Homo sapiens: one gene and its partners. The protein of the gene in region 2 purifies or fractionates together with the protein of the main gene of each other region. This does not show direct contact. Each region holds a gene or a part of one and is shown on either strand. Other genes may lie near its edges.

Region 1 (7,048 bases), on a different chromosome or scaffold from region 2:
TTTCTGGGCTAGAGCCCAGGGTATAAATTGAGCCTGGATCTCTGAACTAGAGCTCAGAGTAGGTGTTTGGATCCATTTTCTAAGCCAGATCCCAGATAAAGGTCTTAGATCAGTAACTCAGGTATAATCTCTGGACCCAGTCCCTGAGTCAGTGCCCCAGACTAGAGCCTTGGTCCAGAAACAGATGTACTGAGTTTGTGAGACCTCTGTAAGAGCATTCCCACTGGATCCTAGGAGCCACGCTGGGTCTCTGGCAGGACCACTCAGTGAACTCCTTGGGGGGCTGCAGCCCAGGCAGGGCTGGAGCCTGTGACGTCCCCTCCTCAAAGTTTGCAGACACAGACAACATTCTGACCAACAATCAGACTCTGCGGCTTCTCATGGGGCAGGGGCTTCCAGTGGTGGCCCCAATGCTGGACTCCCAGACCTACTACTCCAACTTCTGGTGTGGGATCACCCCCCAGGTGAGGCCGGGATGGGGGCCTTGGGTGGACTGAGGTCCTGGAAGGAGGGACGTGGAGAGCAGAGAGCCTGAGGCCTTGGGGTCTGTGGGCAGGGGCAGGGGAGCCCTCTCACAGCCCAAAGCATCCCTTTTCCCCAGGGCTACTACCGCCGCACAGCCGAGTACTTCCCCACCAAGAACCGCCAGCGCCGGGGCTGCTTCCGTGTCCCCATGGTCCACTCCACCTTCCTTGCATCCCTGCGGGCTGAAGGGGCAGACCAGCTTGCTTTCTACCCGCCACATCCCAACTACACTTGGCCTTTCGACGACATCATCGTCTTCGCCTATGCCTGCCAGGCTGCTGGTGAGGACCAGCCCTCCTTTAGCATTCCTTGGAGGCCTCTGCACATTTGCACATGCTATTCCAGCTGCTTACCATGCCCTTCCCTACTCTGCATTTCATCCTGTTAACCCATGAGTTACAACTTTGGGTCATGAGTTTTCTTTTCTCTCTCTTTTTTTTTTTTTTTGGTGTGATCTCGGCTCACTGCAAACTCTGCCTCCCGGGTTCAAATGATTTCCTGCCTCAGCTTCCCGAGTAGCTGGGATTACAGGCACCCGCCACCACACCCAGCTAATTTTTGTATTTTTAGTAGAGACGGGGTTTTGCCATGTTGGTCAGGCTGGTCTCAAAACTCCTGAGCTCAGGTGATCCACCCGCCTCGGCCTCCCAAAGTACTGGCATTACAGGTGTGAGCCACCCGCCCAGCCAGTGGTTACTTTTAAGATGAAAGGTTTTTTGTTGTTGTTGTTGTTGTTGTTTTTGGGACAGAGTCTCACTCTGTCGCCCAGGCTGGAGTGCAGTGGCCGATCTTGGCTCACTGCAAGCTCCGCCTCCCGGGTTCAAGCCATTCTCCTGCCTCAGCCTCCCGAGTAGCTGGGACTACAGGCGCCCACCACCACGCCCGGCTAATTTTTGTATTTGTAGTAGAGATGGGGTTTCACCGTGTTAACCAGGATGGTCTCGATCTCCTGACCTCGTGATCTGCCCGCCTCGGCCTCCCAAAGTGCTGGGATTACAGGCGTGAGCCACCGCGCCCAGCCAAGATGAAAGTTACTAGAAAGAGTTTGGGTATGGCCAGGCAAGGTGACTCAGACCCTAATCTCAAAGTCTTGGGAAGCTGAGGCTGGAGGGGAAATCACTTGAGCTCAGGAGTTCGAGACCAGCCTGGACAACATAGCAAGACCTCATCTCTTTTCTGCCCTTTTTTTTTTTTTGAGATGGAGTTTTGCTCTTGTTGCCCAGGCTGGAGTGCAATGGCGTGATCTTGGCTCACTGCAACCTCTGCCTTCCGGGTTCAAGCAGTTCTCCTGCCTCAGCCTCCCGAGTAGCTGGGATTACAGGCATGCACTGCCACGCCTGGGTAATTTTGTGTTTTTAGTAGAGACGGGGTTTCTCCGTGTTGGTCAGCCTCGTCTCGAACTCCTGACCTCAGGTGATCTGCCCGCCTCAGCCTCCCAAAGTGCTGAGATTACAGGCATGGGCCACTGAGCCCAGCCCAGCCTTTTTTTTTTTTTTTTTTTTTTGAGACGGAGTCTTGCTCTGTGGCTCCCAGGCTAGAGTGCAGTGGCACAATCTCAGCTCACTACAGTGTTGACCTCCCCCACCTCAGCCTCCCACGTAGCTGGGACCACAGGTGCACACCACCATGCCCAGCTAATTTTTGTATTTTTTGTAGAGATGGGGTTTTGCCGTGTTGCCCAGGCTGGTCTTGAACTCCTGGGCTCAAGTGATCTGCCCCCGCAGCCTCCCAAAGTGCTACAATTACAGGCGTGAGCCACCGCCCCCGGCTGCGAGATCCCATCTCTACAAAAAAATTTAAAAATTAACTTGGCGTGTTGGCCCACGCCTGTAGTCCCAGCTTCCTGGGAGGCTGAGGCAGGAGGATCGCTTGAGCCCAGGAGGTAGAGACTGCAGTAAACTGTGATCATGCCACTGTACTCCACCTTGGGCAACACAAGATGAGACCCTGTCTGAAAAAAAACAGAGAGTAAGAAAGTGTTTGGGTTTGGATGGAATAAATCCAGTCCTGGCCAGGTGCGGTGGCTCACGCCTGTAATCTAAGCACTTTGGGAGGCCGAGGCAGGTGGATCACGAGGTCAAGAGATTGAGACCATCTTAAGACGGTGAAACCCCGTCTCTACTAAAAATACGAAAAATTAGCCAGGCATGGTGGCGGGTGCCTATAGTCCCAGCTACTCGGGAGGCTGAGGCAGGAGAATGGTGTGAACGCAGGAGGCAGAGCTTGCAGTGAGCCGAGATCGCGCCACTGCACTCCAGCCTGGGCGACAGAGCGAGACTCTGTCTTAAAAAAAAAAAAAAATCCAGTCCTGAGGATGAGAGGGAGGGGTGGAGACACTGATGTTGGAGTGAAGCTCTTGAGAAGGCTGCAGAGAATATGTAATTCCGACCCTGAAGACTATCTGGTGCATGGAGAAGAACTTTGCAGGTGCTCAGGGTAAATTAGAGGTGACGATTTAATCAAGTAATCAGTGGCAGCCGGTAAGGAGGATGTTGTAATTCTTTGTTTTGTGCTGGAGAAGTCTGCAGTGTGCAGACATGCAAGAAGAAATCTTACCAAGTGCAAAAAGTGAGTGAAGGTGAAACAATTGGAGGGGAAAACACAAGAGGAAACAAAAGCATTCTGTTATTTTTAATTTGCTAGCCCTACTTCAAGCGACAGCCGTTGTTAATTGGTCAATGGTTTGAAGGAATTCAGTCTCTAACAGCCAGATACTACATCCCGGCTCTGGGCCAGGCTCTGTGCTCAATGCTGGGAATAGGGTTAGCTTTTATTTGTTTTTTGTTTGTTTTTTTTTAAGACAGAGCTTTGTTCTGTCGCCTAGGCTGGAGTGCAGTGGCGCGATTTTGGCTCACTGCAACCTCTGCCTCCCGGGTTCAAGTGATTCTCCTGCCTCAGCCTCCTAAGTAGATGGGATTACGGGCGGCCACCACCACAGCCGGTTAATTTTTGTATTTTTAGTAGAGATGGGGTTTCACCATGTTGGCCAGGCTGGTCTTGAACTCCTGACCTCAAATGATCTGCCTGCCTGGGCTTCCCAAAGTGCTGGGATTACAGGCGTGAGCTACTGTGCCCCGCCTAGGTTAGCTTTTTAATTGGCACTGTGTGCCTGCCCCTGAGGATAATTATAATAAAGGTAACAAATATTGGCCGGGTGCAGTGGCTCACGCCTGTAATCCCAGCACTTTGGATGGCCTAGGGTGGGTGGATCACTTCAGGCCAGGAGTTCGAGACCATCCTGGCCAACATGGCGAAACTCCGTCTCTACTAAAAATACAAAAATTAGCTGGATGTGGTGGTGCACACCTGTATTCCCAGCTACTCAGGAGGCTGAGGCAGGAGAATTGCTCAAACCTGGGAGACAGAGGTTGTAATGAGCCAAGATCGCACCATTGCACTCCAGCCTCGGTGACAGAGCAGGACTCCATCTCAAAAAAAAAAAAAAGGTAACAAATATTGAAGCCGGGGGAAGGCCACTCTGGCTGCCAGGTGAAAGACATCGTGGAGAGGAGCCCCAGAGGGTGTGAGGTGAAGTGGAGGGGTGTGGGGAAAAGGCGATGGCCCTTGGATCCAGGTGGGGTGGTGGGGATCAGGAGAGGTGGGGGGATTTAGGAGACAGAGCAGTGGGGCTCACTGGCACCCTGTGGCTGTGATGGGTAGGAGTTTGTCTGCTCCTGCCTCACCTTGATGCCCTGAGGGCAGGGACTCAGTCTTGCTCACTGCCGTAACCCTGGCTCCCAGCGGGTGCCCTGGACAGGTATATTGAATGAATGAACCATTTCAGTAGAAAGACCCCTTAGATATTGTGTGAGCCAAGCCCTTTCTCCCTCTGGTCCCACAGGTGGGGAAACTGAGTCCCAGAGAAGACTGACATGTTGGGTCACTGGCAGTGCTGGGCCTAGGACCTTTCAGCTGGGTTCTGAGAGCCCCACCCTCCACTGCAGCTCTCACTCAGCCTGTCTCTGCAGGGGTCTCCGTCCACGTGTGCAATGAGCACCGTTATGGGTACATGAATGTGCCGGTGAAATCCCACCAGGGGCTGGAAGACGAGAGGGTCAACTTCATCCACCTGATCTTAGAAGCACTAGGTGAGGGCTGGGGAACTGTTCCACCCACCTGCTGCCGGGGCTCCCTGCCTCCCCACGGTGCCCCTTTCCCTAGGCCCTGGACGGAGCGGGCATTGGCCTTGGGGTTCCAGCTTTGTCCCTAACTCGTTCCATGACTCTGAGAAAGTCCCTTTCCCTGTTGGGCCTTAGTCTAGCATCCCTACAATGGGGGCAGGTGGATCCTGTGATCTCTGAGGTCCCGTCCTGTGGGGTGTTCTGCCAAAGGGGGCAGGAATGAGGCTGGGGGCTAGGACTTCAGGGTGACTGCTAACAGGAGTCAGTAGGGACTCGTGCTTGGGGTGTGCTTCCCTTTGCAGTGGACGGCCCCCGCATGCAGGCCTCAGCTCATGTGACTCGGCCCTCTAAGAGGCCCAGCAAGATAGGGTTTGACGAGGTAAGTCCCCCAGCCTGTGGGCTCGCTGTTAGGAGGTGGATGGGCCCTCCTCTTCCGCTCCCTTGCACTTACCGCCCACCCCCCTGCCTCCTCCAGGTCTTTGTCATCAGCCTGGCTCGCAGGCCTGACCGTCGGGAACGCATGCTCGCCTCGCTCTGGGAGATGGAGATCTCTGGGAGGGTGGTGGACGCTGTGGATGGCTGGTGAGCCTGCCTGGTGGGGGGGGCCCTGTGCGCTTGGGGAAGCAGTGTGGTCCATCTCCTAGCCCGCTAGGACTGGGAAAAGCAGACAGGTTGAATGAGTTTCCTGTCCCATGTAGTATCCAAATAGGGTCTGAGTAATATCCTCTCAGGGAGTTCCGGAGCAGACACACGTGGGAGAAGATGCCCTCCTGCTGCTCACCAGAGGAGGAGAGCACAGTGGCTGAGGCTCCAGGGCCTGGGTTCCAGCTCTACCAGTTACTGAATGTGTGACCTCCAGCCAGCTACCCCCATCTCTCAGCCCGTTTGTATAAACAGCAGATAACTGTGCCCTTCTCTTAGGGTTTTGTGAGTTTAGTGAAGTTAGCCAGGGCCGGGCACATAGTTTCCAAAGGCTTAGGTGTCTCCCTTATTATTACTCTCCATCCTGGACTTGAGCTACTGATGCGTGGGGATTAGGAAAGGCCAGCCATGTTCCCCCGAGGAACCCAGAGGCTAGGCTTCTCCAGCCACCAGGGGTCCTATGGCCCCATATGTCGGCTGCCATTTGCTTCAAGTACTCAGCTCTTTTTATTTTTTTTTTAGAGACAGCGTCTCCGTCTGTTGCCCTCCGTCTGTTGCCCAGGCTGGAGTGCGGTGCCACAAACATGGCTCACTGCTGCCTTAAACTCCTGGGCTCAAGTAATCCTCCCACCTCAGCCTTCTGAGTAACTGGGACTATAGGTGTGCACTATCACATCCAGCTAATTAAAAAGAATTTTTTTTTTTTTTTGAGGCAGAGTCTCGCTCTGTCGCCCAGGCCTGGAGTGCAGTGGCGCAATCTTGGCTCACTGCAACATCCGCCTCCCAGGTTTTAAGTGATTCTCCTCCCTCACCTCCCAAGTAGCTGTGATTACAGGCTTGCATCACCACACCCGGATTAAAAAAAATGTTTTGTTTTGTTTTTTTTTCATAGAGATAGGGTCTCACTCTGTTGCCTAGGCTGGTCTTGAACTCCTGGCCTCAAGTGACCGTCCTGCCTCAGCCTCCTGAATAACGGACTACAGGCATGCACCACCATGTCCACCTAATGAAAAAAAATTTTTGACTGGGCACGGTGGCTCATGCCTGTAATCCCAGCACTCTGGGAGGTTATGGATGGATCACCTGAGGTCAGGAGTTCGAGACCAGCCTGGCCAACCAACATGGTGAAACCCCCTCTCTACTAAAAGTACAAAAATTAGCCAGGTGTGGTAGTGGGTGCCTGTAATCTCAGCTACTTGGGAGGCTGAGTCAGGAGAACTGCTGGAACCCAGGAGGCAGAGGTTGCAGTGAGCCGAGATTGTGCCATTGCACTCCAGCCTGGGCCGACAACAGTGAGACTCTGTCTCAAAAAAAATTTTTTTTTTGAGAGATGGGGTTTTTCTCTGTTGCCAAGGCTGGTCTTGAACTCCTGGCCTCAAGCAATCCTCCCACCTTGGCCTCCCAAAGCACTGGGATTACAGGTGTGAGACACCACATCCCCCGAGGTCTCTTGACCATAGGCTATCCATCCTTTGCTTGGGCCTCTGCCCAAGAAGTATCTATCATGTTCCCACATTCTTCCTAGAGTGCCTCCCCCTCAGGCAGCCCCCTACCATCCCACCCTTTCCTCAAGGGTCACCCCTGTCTTATCATATTAGGACATGTCCTAATAGTTATCCTCTCAGAACTCCCGAGGTGGCTGGGCGTGGTGGCTCATGCCTGTAATCCCAGCACTTTGGGAGGCTGAGGTGGGTGGATCACCTGAGGTCAGGAGTTCGAGACCAGCCTGGCCAACATGGTGAAACCCCATCTCTACTAAA
Region 2 (7,048 bases):
TGTGATATATTTCAGTTTCTGAGCAAGAAGAAAAGGAATTTGCTTGAAACTAAACTTTTTTTTGTTATTAGGAATATTAATGCAAAAATGCCGTAATAAAGTCATGAAAAACTATGGAAGATACTATATTGCTGCGTCCTATGTAAAGTACTTGGAGTCTGCAGGTGCGAGAGTTGTACCAGTAAGGTATGATTCAGTGTTTTTTTTTTTTTTTTACTCTGTATAAAAAATTGCTGCGTACGGGTGCGGTGCCTCATGCCTGTAATTCTAGCACTTTGGGAGGCCAAGGCGGGTGGACTACTGAGGTCAGGAGTTCGAGACCAGCCAGGCCAACCTGGTGAAGCCCTGTCTCTACTAAAAATACAAAAATTAGCTGGGTGCAGTAGTGCACTCCTGTAATCCCAGCTACTGGGGAGGCTGAGGCAGGAGAATCGCTTGAACCAGGGAGGTGGAGGTTGCAGTGAGTTGAGATCGCACCACTGCACTCCAGTTTGGGCAACAGATCGAGACTCCATCTCAAAATAATAATTACTGCCTAATATCTCTAAAATTCGTGCTTTCTCTCTTATGATTACATTGTTTAAATGCAGTAACATTGCACCTGATTTTTGACACAAACATGTTGCTTAGAGTCTCTCATTGAATTGTTTAATGTGGGAAGCTGTGTGTTACCTGTAACGTCATTAGAGGTACCATATGTCATATGCATTAACATCAAGAATGAAATGATAGTTTCCTTTATCCCAGAAAAGGTGGTTCTCACAGACACTATGAAGGTAATGGAGTAAAATAATCTAAAGTGGTTGGGGGGGCGGGGTGAGGGATAAAAAATTACATATTGGGTACAGTGTACATTGCTCGGGTGGCTGGTTCATTGAAATCTCAGACTTCATCACTATACAGTTCATGCATGTAACCAAAAACCATTTTTACCCCAAAGGCTATTGAAATAAGAAAAAAATTTTAATGAATCTACAATTTAACCAGCTTTGTTCTATAATATTAGGATAAGAGAACAGTTAGGGAATGAAGGAGGTTTTTAGAAGATGACTTTTAAAATACCTTCACACTCTACTTTAAAAGTTTGTAAATTACCAGTGCATTAGGGTTGCTTCAGTGTGGATTATAGGTATTGCAGTTTTAAAGGCACTGCATTATTTTTGTGATAAAATGTTCCTATAAGAATAAAATGATTCATCTCATTTTCATTTAGAACTGAATTCTTCCCATATTTTTCATCTGGAAGGAGCTAACAACCAGAATCTTATAAGGATTTGTAATGTCTTGTCAGCTAAAATTAATGTATTTTAGAATCTTTGAGCACCTCATCTAATCCATTTTGAGTGATTTCACACATAAAACACTATTTATTCTGTACAGCCTGTTTTTGCAAACAATTCCTCATCAAAAATTATAACAAAAATACTGTTCAAATATAATACTACTAATAAAATGCAAATATTACAATTTAGAGAATTGTACCACAAAATGGCTTTAGGTTTAGATTTATAAGAATTGTCTTCTTGTATGATCTTTTACATTTAAATTAACTGTTTCTACACCAAGATTGCCATTTGCTTTTGATATTAGTCTTTAATATTTTAGTAGCCTATCTAATTTTTCAAACGAAATTTTATTTGAAGCCCATATAACGCCAGAGTTTTAGAGCTGAGGAAGAGGCTCCAGAGAGTCTTCAGAACAGTGTTTCAAAGTTTTCATCAGGGAAACTTTTTAATGCAAGCTGTTCTTCTGGGATGTTAGTGCTGACCGTGTGGATGGGAGATATATATAAAAATATATATATATTTTTATATATATTATATATATATATAAGGAGAGACATATATATATATATATAAGGAGAGACAAAAGGCAGAGCAGCCATAAAAAAGAATGAAATCATATCCTTTGCTGCAATGTGAATGCAGCTGGAGGCCCAAGTGAATTAATGCAGAAACAGAAAACCAAATACCACATATTCTCACTTATAAGTGGGAGCTAAACATTGGGTACACATGGACCCAAAGATGGCAGCAATAGATGCTGGCGGCTACTAGAGGAGGAGGGCAATAAGGGCTGAAAAACTACCTATTGGATACTGTGCTCACTACCTGGGTGACAGGATCATTTGTACCCCAAACCTCAGCATCACACAATATACCCATGTAGCAAATCTGCACATGTACCCTCTGAATCTAAAATAAAAGTTAAAATTATAAAAAATAAATGAAGTAAAATCATAACTGAAAGAGGAGACATTACAACTAATGCTACAGAAATAAAAAGGTTCATAAAAGACTACTTAAACTATATGCCAACAACATGTGTAACCTAGAAGAAATGAATAAATTGTTAGAAACACACAGTCTACCAAGACTGAATCATAAAGAAATAGGTAACAAACCTGTCACTGGTGGAGAGATTGAAATGGTAATCAAGAGCCTCTCAACACAGAAAAGCCCAAGACCAGCTGGCTTCACTGGTGAATTCTACCAAACATCTAAAGCAGAATTGATACCAGTCCTTCTCAAACTCATCCAAAAAATTGAAGACAGTACAATTCCAAGAATGAACCCCAGTGTAAACTAGGTCTTGGGCAATTATGATGTGTCAGTGTATTTTTATCAACTGTTACAGTGTACCACCCAAGATGTTAATGGAGGAAGCTATACATGTTTTGGGGCAGGGGTTATAAAGGAAATACTTAACCTTCTCTTAATTTTGCTGTGAACCTGAAATTACTCTAAAAAATAAAGTCTTTAAAAAAATAAAACAAAATGCCTAAAGGCAGGTAGACCAGTTTAGAGGTAGTTGCAGTAGTCTAGGTGTGAAGTGTTGAGGGCTTGGCTTACACTGGTGGTGTGGGAATGATAGGTAAGTGTTGTTTAAAAAAATCACCAGTACATGATGACTAATAAAAGGGCACAGGGAGGAAGAAATATATAAGGATGATGGAAGTTTTGAAATCATGGGAGTTTTGAAAGTGGATGACTTTGCAGAATATTGGTATTTATGAGAGATGCTGAGAACACGACTGTCAGCATACAGGTTTATTTCCAAATTGGGTTCTCAGAGTTCACTTAAGGTATATTGGAATCATGTGATCTTGTAGAAACAGTGTAATACATATGGGGTGAGTTCATAGACTAGCCTGTGAAGGATTACCTGATGCAAAATAAGACTGGATCATGATGATGTTAGGTTCATTTCTGAATTTTGGATGCTGGGAGTCAACTTCTGTGGTTTAGAAGTGAAAAGGAAGAGATGGGAGACCTGGGAAGCATTCTGAAATAGATGCAGAAATTTGTCTTTGGTTTCCTTCTGCCTTCTTTCTGCCCCTTCTGTCTCAGGCGCTTGGTGCTCTCAGGTTGTCATAAATGCCCAATGTGGGACTAGTGGAAAAGAGAATGTCCTGCTTCCTCAGAGGTAGCATACAGGAGCCCATGGACTGCTGCTTTTGGTTTAAAAACGTGTTTTGTTCACACAGCGTTTTAAAACATGAATCAGGCTGGGCGCGGTGGCTCACGTCTATTATCCCAGCACTTTGGGAGGCTGAGGTGGGAAGATCGCTTAAGTTCATGAGTTTGAGACCAGCTTGGGCAACATGGAAAAACCCCTATCTATAAAAAATTTTTAAAAAATGAGCTGGGAGTGGTGGCGTGCACCTATGGGCCCAGCTACTCAGGAGGCTGAGGTGGGAGGATCACTTGAGCCCAGGAGGTGGAGGTTACAGTGAGCTGAGATGGCGCTACTGCACTCCAGCCTGGGTGACAGAGCCAGACCTTTCTCAAAAAAACCCCAAAGACCACAAATCAAACTTTATAAGAGTCTGAATTTTTGTTTCTTTTGAAGACAGTTATCTAGATTGAGTTTTAAATGGGGCAAACACTCCCCATTGGCAACAATGCCTTACCATCCTTTTCATGCTGCTAAAGCTGTGTGTCATTTGCCATCATCACCAGGCTTAAGCCATTTCGTTACAGTTAAGGAGAGAGTAAACTGTTCCTCATACCTTGTTGAAAGGGACTTTTGTTTCAAAAAATGTCTGACAACATGCAACTAACAGCTGTATTCTCTGCCAGGGCCCCTAGGCACCAGAGTTGTGACATGGCACACTCCTTCCCCTGTGACAATTAGGTCTCTTAATAGAGATAAATGGGGACCAAAACTATAGTCATGGACAGTGTGGGAGCCATTTATTTAGAATTAATGAAATGACTGAAACTAGCTTGCACCGCTAGCTGGCAGGAATCCTTGGAGTGCAGCTGTGTGATCTAAATCCATTTTGGTCCCTGATGGCGATGGTTGCCCATTTTGGTTTAAATATCCATGGGGAGAATTCTGGGTCCTGACTGGCTGGTTCCTTTTTGTTGCCACAATCTGGGGAGATTAGACTGGCAGAATACTGGGTACATGTATATTGATATTTCACCTCCCTATCACTTCCCAAGGCAGGGCTACCTGTCAGTATTTTCTCCACTTAAGAATGGTAAGCACCATTCTGGTATCACCCATTGCTTTGTGGCTCTCGCCAGGAAGAGATTACTATGAACTTGTGAGAGACCTGGACTTGCAAAGCTTGTTTGGACTTAGAGTAGATCCCAGAGTTGTTTGCTGGCAAAACACAGCCTGTGTTCTGGATATCACAGGTGTCTAGTTAATAATGGGTGTGAGGGACTTTACCTCCCCCTAAAACTTCTTTGAGGGCAGAAATGGACTAGTTGACATCTAATCATAAGTCTACTTCTTTTAGGGCAGGTTGAGAGGACAGGTACCATTTATTCTGTCACAGAAACAGAAGGCTGCTAAATGTGGGAGAGTTCTTGCAAGGATTTCACTAACTTGGTGCTCTCTTCCCTTATTGTTGCATTTTATTGAACTTTCGGGAGAGCAGATATCTGTGACTTAGTAAATGTTGTCACCATATGTCACAGATTAAGCCCATCTTTTTTTTCTGGAGAAAGGGAATAAAGTCACCAATAACATGGCGATTGTTAGGAGGCCCTTAAGGGGTGTTTGATCAAGGGTCTTTCAGAGTAATTACCTGGGCAGTTAGGCTGTTCTACAGTCATCTCTCTGTGGTCCTCAGTTCAGACTAGATGTGAACCATCCTGACTTTGAAATGCAGAGTAGTCCCTAGACTGTTGCAACTAGTTTGTTGGGGTGGGATCAGGCAGCGACTTGGCATTTATTTATGCATTTTTTAATCTGCCAGAGCTTCCTGTAGTTAAATAGGCATGATAAATAAAGTTATTTAAAGGAGTCTTTACATAAAACTACTGAATATTCTTACATTTCTTTTTGTAGTTCTTGGTTAGTAGAGAAATTACTGGTGGCCAAATCTCACGGTCTTTACTGTTTTTGCATACTAACACATACTTCACAATATTAAATTGCATTAGATCACAGAAAAACATATTTACTTGTCTGATTAGCAAAACAAGGATAGAATGATGTGGCTTTCAAGTGGTTTGCAAAAATGCCTCTAGAAAAGTAGAGAGGTAATATTGTCTAGTAATTAAAAATTTGTTTTTATTTGGCTTTTTAAAAGTAAATGTGGAGACTTCATTTAGAGGTTTACTTCTAAGTTTCACAAATGTAACAATAACTTTTATTGTTTTCAGGCTGGATCTTACAGAGAAAGACTATGAAATACTTTTCAAATCTATTAATGGGTAAGTTGGCAGCATTGGTTTCATACGGTATATGAGTGGTCTACATATGTCTGCTTTTGTAAAAGAAATCATATAAATATTATACATGTTTCTATGTAACTGTCTTAGAGTGGTATAGTATTAGTGTTCTGAGTTCTTTTATAGGATTTATTTTCTTGGGAGATGCAAAAGTCCTTCAAAAGAGGAAGAGGCAGGTTAGGAAATGTATAATTGTTACATAGTAGACACACATAATTTTTTTAAATGTGTGACTTAATCTTTGTTCTTTTAATGCTTGTCTTAAATGTTTTGAAGCTACCTTGAATGGCGTGGCATACTGCTTGCATATGGGGTTTATAAGTCCAAAGTCTGAGGATGTTGATTTTTTTTTTCAGGTAAATTGGGAAAAAATATTCACCATTACTCTTAATTTTAGGAAAGAAGGCTAATTACAGCAATCAAAAACATTTAATTACCATGTTGGCAGAGATCAGAAAATTTGCTTATACTCTATGGGGCCTGTGAGGAAACAAGTGTGCTCATACTTTATTAGAGGGAATGTAAATCAGGTAGTCTTTTTTGGGGTAATATTGCAATACCTATTGAAATTAGAAACACGTATACCCTTTGACCTGGGAACTTGAGGAGGAATTTTATTTTATAAATATATTCCCACCTTGCATGAAGACTTAGACTCAAATCTATGCATTGTATTAGTAGTATTGTCTGACAGTCACCCCGTAATCCATCAGGTGAGAATTGGTTAAATAAAACAGACTATGTACATTCAATAGAATACTATGCAGGAATTAAAAAATGCGGCTATCTGTAGATGCTGACTTAGATCACCATTGTCCTATGAACAATGTGATAGTGTTATGTGAAAAAGGCAAGGCACGTGATGGTGTGTATAGCATACACCCCGTTTGCTTTTTGTTAAAGGTGGGGGTGAAGAGATATGCATATTTCTACCAAATCAACACAGCAGATTTTAATGGCAGTTGTTTCTGATTGGGAATAGGGTGGAAGTATTTTACTGTAAAATGTTTTTTTAAAAGAGCTTTATTATTTTTACTTCTAAAACCATGTTAATTTATTGTTTCTTTTAAAAAGCTATGTTTAGAAAATTATTTGCCTTCAGTTCAGTTTGGTTCAGTAAATATTTACCATAAAATCAGTTCAATTTAGTAAAACATTTACAATGCCCAGTATGTGCTGTGTGCAAGGTACTTTGGCATGGACAAAGATCATTAAGTCTAGGCTAGAATATAATAGTAGAACCTCAAAAATAGACCTTTTGAAACACTTCATTTTCTTCCCACCCTCTCCCCAGTTGCATTCCTGTTTGGAGAGGAATCTGAATCAAGTAGCAGTGTAGACAGGAATACATACTT
Region 3 (3,974 bases), on a different chromosome or scaffold from region 2:
CCCCGACCATGTGTCTCTGTTGAAACCCCAACTGTCTTTCTCCCCACTCCCTACCCACCCAGGGGAAGCCAAATATAGGCCAAGAGCAGCCTGTGGATGATGCTGCAGAAGTCCCTCAGAGGGAACCAGAGAAGGAAAGGGGTGATCCAGAACGGCAGAGAGAGATGGAAGAAGAGGAGGATGAGGATGAGGATGAGGATGAAGATGAGGATGAACGGCAGTTACTGGGAGAATTTGAGAAGGAACTGGAAGGGATCCTGCTTCCGTCAGACCGAGACCGGCTCCGTTCGGAGGTGAAGGCTGGCATGGAGCGGGAACTGGAAAACATCATCCAGGAGGCAAGCCCAGCTCTTCCTCCTGTTGCTTCCACAGCCGCCTGGTCCCGTGGAGCAGGACAGGCTGACGGGCTAAAAGAAACAGAGGGCACAGCACAGGGCAAGGACGGGGCACTTGGAAGTGGTAGCTGTTTCCCTAATTAATCGGGGCTGTTGGGGAAGGGGGACCAGAGAGAGGGACAAGACTTAAATATCAGACTCTCTGGCCAGGCGCGGTGGCTCACGCCTGTAATCCCAGCACTTTGGGAGGCCGAGGTGAGCGGATCACCTGAGGTCAGGAGTTCAAGACCAGCCTGGCCAACATGGCGAAACCCTCTCTACTAAAAATGCAAACAAATTGGCCAGGCATGGCAGTGGGTACCTGTAATCCCAGCTCTTTGGAAGGCTGAGGCAAGAGAATCGCTCGAACCCGGGAGGCGGAGGTTGCAGTGAGCCGAGACGGCACCACTGTACTCCAGCCTGGGTGATAAGCAAAACTCCATTTCAAAATATCAGACTCTCCTACAGAGCCCAGCCCGCTGGCTGCCTCCACACCCCAGACCCTTGACTCACTCTCTTCTCTTGGGTATTCCAGACAGAGAAAGAGCTGGACCCAGATGGGCTGAAGAAGGAGTCAGAGCGGGATCGGGCAATGCTGGCTCTCACATCCACTCTCAACAAACTCATCAAAAGACTGGAGGAAAAACAGAGTCCAGAGCTGGTGAAGAAGCACAAGAAAAAGAGGGTTGTCCCCAAAAAGCCTCCCCCATCACCCCAACCTACAGGTGAGAGCAGTCAGACAAGAAAGAGTAGCCCAGTCTGTTGTTTTCATCCCTCAGCTGGTTCTGTTCCCAGAGGGGACCCTGTTCCTTCCCTTCTGAGGGTGCTCATTCTCTCCCCACTTTCTGGAACACTGTCCTCACTTGCGCCTGCTTCCCAACACCATCATCCCTTTGCGTGTTTACCTCCTATTCATCCCTCTGGGAAGCAGCTTTTAGAGCATATCTGCTGGTTTTCTGGTTTGCTCCTGTACACCCAGTGCCTAGCACTCTGCCTGGCACACAATGGATGATCAGTAGCTAGTAATTGAATGCTTGTGAGTCTATATGCTGAAAACCACTTTAGGACTTTGCACCAAGAGAGGCCCCAGCTGTCAGGGCATGAATAGGAGAGCCCAGCTGCACATGAGCCAATAGCTTGGATAGACTTTAAATTATTTCTTCTTCTTGTATCCCCTTGTGTCCATTTCATAGTGTCCTATGGGTGTGGACATCAGATATTCTAAATGGAATGTTCCAGTTTCAAACCTTCCATTCCCACTCTCTCTATAAACATTGAAATGTCTTTAAAGTCCCAACATATGGAGGAGGAGACCACACTTTTCCAACCTGCTTCTTCAAACAGAACTTTGTTGGTGCAGGTGGCCTGATTTTGGCTTTAGAAAACATTTGTTTTCCTATAGGTGACGGGCAGAATTATTGGGTAGGGCGGGAAGATGGAAGGCTGCAATTGGTGGAGGGAGCTCTACAGGCTGAACTGGGAGGGGCGGGGCACACATTTTTTTGAGCCCTGGCTCATATACATGTTGAGATGGAAGAGCTGCCAAAGCCAACTGATGTTTTAGGGGGAGATGACCCCCACACCCCTAACCCTGGAGTCACGCCTCTGCTTTGTGTTTCCCTGTGTGTCTCCCCCTCTAAGAGGAGGATCCTGAGCACAGAGTCCGGGTCCGGGTCACCAAGCTCCGTCTCGGAGGCCCTAATCAGGATCTGACTGTCCTCGAGATGAAACGGGAAAACCCACAGCTGAAACAAATCGAGGGGCTGGTGAAGGAGCTGCTGGAGAGGGAGGGACTCACAGCTGCAGGTGGGCCCTGGAGGGCGGCTGGACCCAGTGCTGTCGGAAGGGCAAGCTGCCGGAAGTGGAGGGGCTGGGACCAGTGGGGCAGGGGGCCTGCCCTGAGGCTCCCAACCATCCTCTCCTCTCACTGCATACTGCTCCTTTCCAGGGAAAATTGAGATCAAAATTGTCCGCCCATGGGCTGAAGGGACTGAAGAGGGTGCACGTTGGCTGACTGATGAGGACACGAGAAACCTCAAGGAGATCTTCTTCAATATCTTGGTAAGAGGCTTCTACCCCCGAGTCCTGGCCCCCAGCCCTCCTGGAGTGGAGGTGCGGGCTTGCCCCAGCCACGCCATTGCTGAGCTTCCATTTCCTGATCTGTAAGACAAGGCTGGGGTTCCAGTGGCTCAGAGTGCTGCCATGCAGGAAGAGCCCCTCAGGACATGGGTGTCCTCATTCCCTGCCTTCCCCCAGCTGCCTGGCCCAGGACTTCCCTGGGCTCAACGGCCAGTAGCTCCAGCCCACCTCTACCCTCTCCCACCAGGTGCCGGGAGCTGAAGAGGCCCAGAAGGAACGCCAGCGGCAGAAAGAGCTGGAGAGCAATTACCGCCGGGTGTGGGGCTCTCCAGGTGGGGAGGGCACAGGGGACCTGGACGAATTTGACTTCTGAGACCAACACTACACTTGACCCTTCACGGAATCCAGACTCTTCCTGGACTGGCTTGCCTCCTCCCCACCTCCCCACCCTGGAACCCCTGAGGGCCAAACAGCAGAGTGGAGCTGAGCTGTGGACCTCTCGGGCAACTCTGTGGGTGTGGGGGCCCTGGGTGAATGCTGCTGCCCCTGCTGGCAGCCACCTTGAGACCTCACCGGGCCTGTGATATTTGCTCTCCTGAACTCTCACTCAATCCTCTTCCTCTCCTCTGTGGCTTTTCCTGTTATTGTCCCCTAATGATAGGATATTCCCTGCTGCCTACCTGGAGATTCAGTAGGATCTTTTGAGTGGAGGTGGGTAGAGAGAGCAAGGAGGGCAGGACACTTAGCAGGCACTGAGCAAGCAGGCCCCCACCTGCCCTTAGTGATGTTTGGAGTCGTTTTACCCTCTTCTATTGAATTGCCTTGGGATTTCCTTCTCCCTTTCCCTGCCCACCCTGTCCCCTACAATTTGTGCTTCTGAGTTGAGGAGCCTTCACCTCTGTTGCTGAGGAAATGGTAGAATGCTGCCTATCACCTCCAGCACAATCCCAGTGAAAAAGGTGTGAAGCACCCACCATGTTCTTGAACAATCAGGTTTCTAAATAAACAACTGGACCATCAATCCATCAACCTTTTTTGTGGGGTGGGGGTTCCAGCAGGGAGAAGGCTCAGTGTTCTTTTCAGATCATGCTCTGATCCTGTTCTTTGCTCCCCATTCCCCAGGTACTATAAACGGGGGCTGGGGTATGCAGGAAGAGACCAGGGTAGCTAAACAAAGCCTGGCCTGGCAAGGATTGAAAGAAACACTTGCAATGCTGTCATCTTCCTTTTCTCATCTGTCTGTTTCTGTTCCTTCCCTTTTGCACCAAGTCTTTCCCTATTGTTTCCCCCTTTATACCCTGAAAGCCAAAATGCACACCATGGAGCTCCCCCCGGCGGGGATCTTCCTTCTGCTGTGGTCTCTCCCATATCATGCTCCAGATTCCATTTGTCATCCACACCCCTACCCACCTGTCCTTTCAACATTTTCCAAAAAGACCTCCACCTTTGGGCATGCGCAGAGAGAGGGCTGCTGCCCACACATGCCAGTTTCTTAGTATGCCCAAGGGTACATGGGCCTGG

The links. Proteins that work in one complex are often made in the same cells at the same time.
Region 1: the proteins of GGH (region 2) and CERCAM purify together in Homo sapiens (affinity purification with mass spectrometry; 3 studies listed by BioGRID and IntAct, with this or other methods). This does not show direct contact.
Region 3: the proteins of GGH (region 2) and OS9 purify together in Homo sapiens (affinity purification with mass spectrometry; 3 studies listed by BioGRID and IntAct, with this or other methods). This does not show direct contact.

The regions. Positions count from the first base shown.
Region 1 is NC_000009.12:128,423,809-128,430,856, forward strand, and holds part of CERCAM (inactive glycosyltransferase 25 family member 3 isoform a precursor), read left to right. Parts: intron 1-329; coding exon 330-464; intron 465-601; coding exon 602-806; intron 807-4,493; coding exon 4,494-4,613; intron 4,614-4,948; coding exon 4,949-5,025; intron 5,026-5,121; coding exon 5,122-5,228; intron 5,229-7,048. UniProt on the Homo sapiens protein: Probable cell adhesion protein involved in leukocyte transmigration across the blood-brain barrier. Does not express any beta-galactosyltransferase activity in vitro.
Region 2 is NC_000008.11:63,028,794-63,035,841, reverse strand, and holds part of GGH (gamma-glutamyl hydrolase isoform 1 precursor), read left to right. Parts: intron 1-71; coding exon 72-186; intron 187-5,624; coding exon 5,625-5,675; intron 5,676-7,048. UniProt on the Homo sapiens protein: Hydrolyzes the polyglutamate sidechains of pteroylpolyglutamates. Progressively removes gamma-glutamyl residues from pteroylpoly-gamma-glutamate to yield pteroyl-alpha-glutamate (folic acid) and free glutamate.
Region 3 is NC_000012.12:57,718,084-57,722,057, forward strand, and holds the end of OS9 (protein OS-9 isoform 1 precursor), read left to right. Parts: intron 1-62; coding exon 63-338; intron 339-909; coding exon 910-1,099; intron 1,100-2,015; coding exon 2,016-2,180; intron 2,181-2,322; coding exon 2,323-2,435; intron 2,436-2,700; coding exon 2,701-2,826; 3' UTR 2,827-3,474; downstream 3,475-3,974. UniProt on the Homo sapiens protein: Lectin component of the HRD1 complex, which functions in endoplasmic reticulum (ER) quality control and ER-associated degradation (ERAD).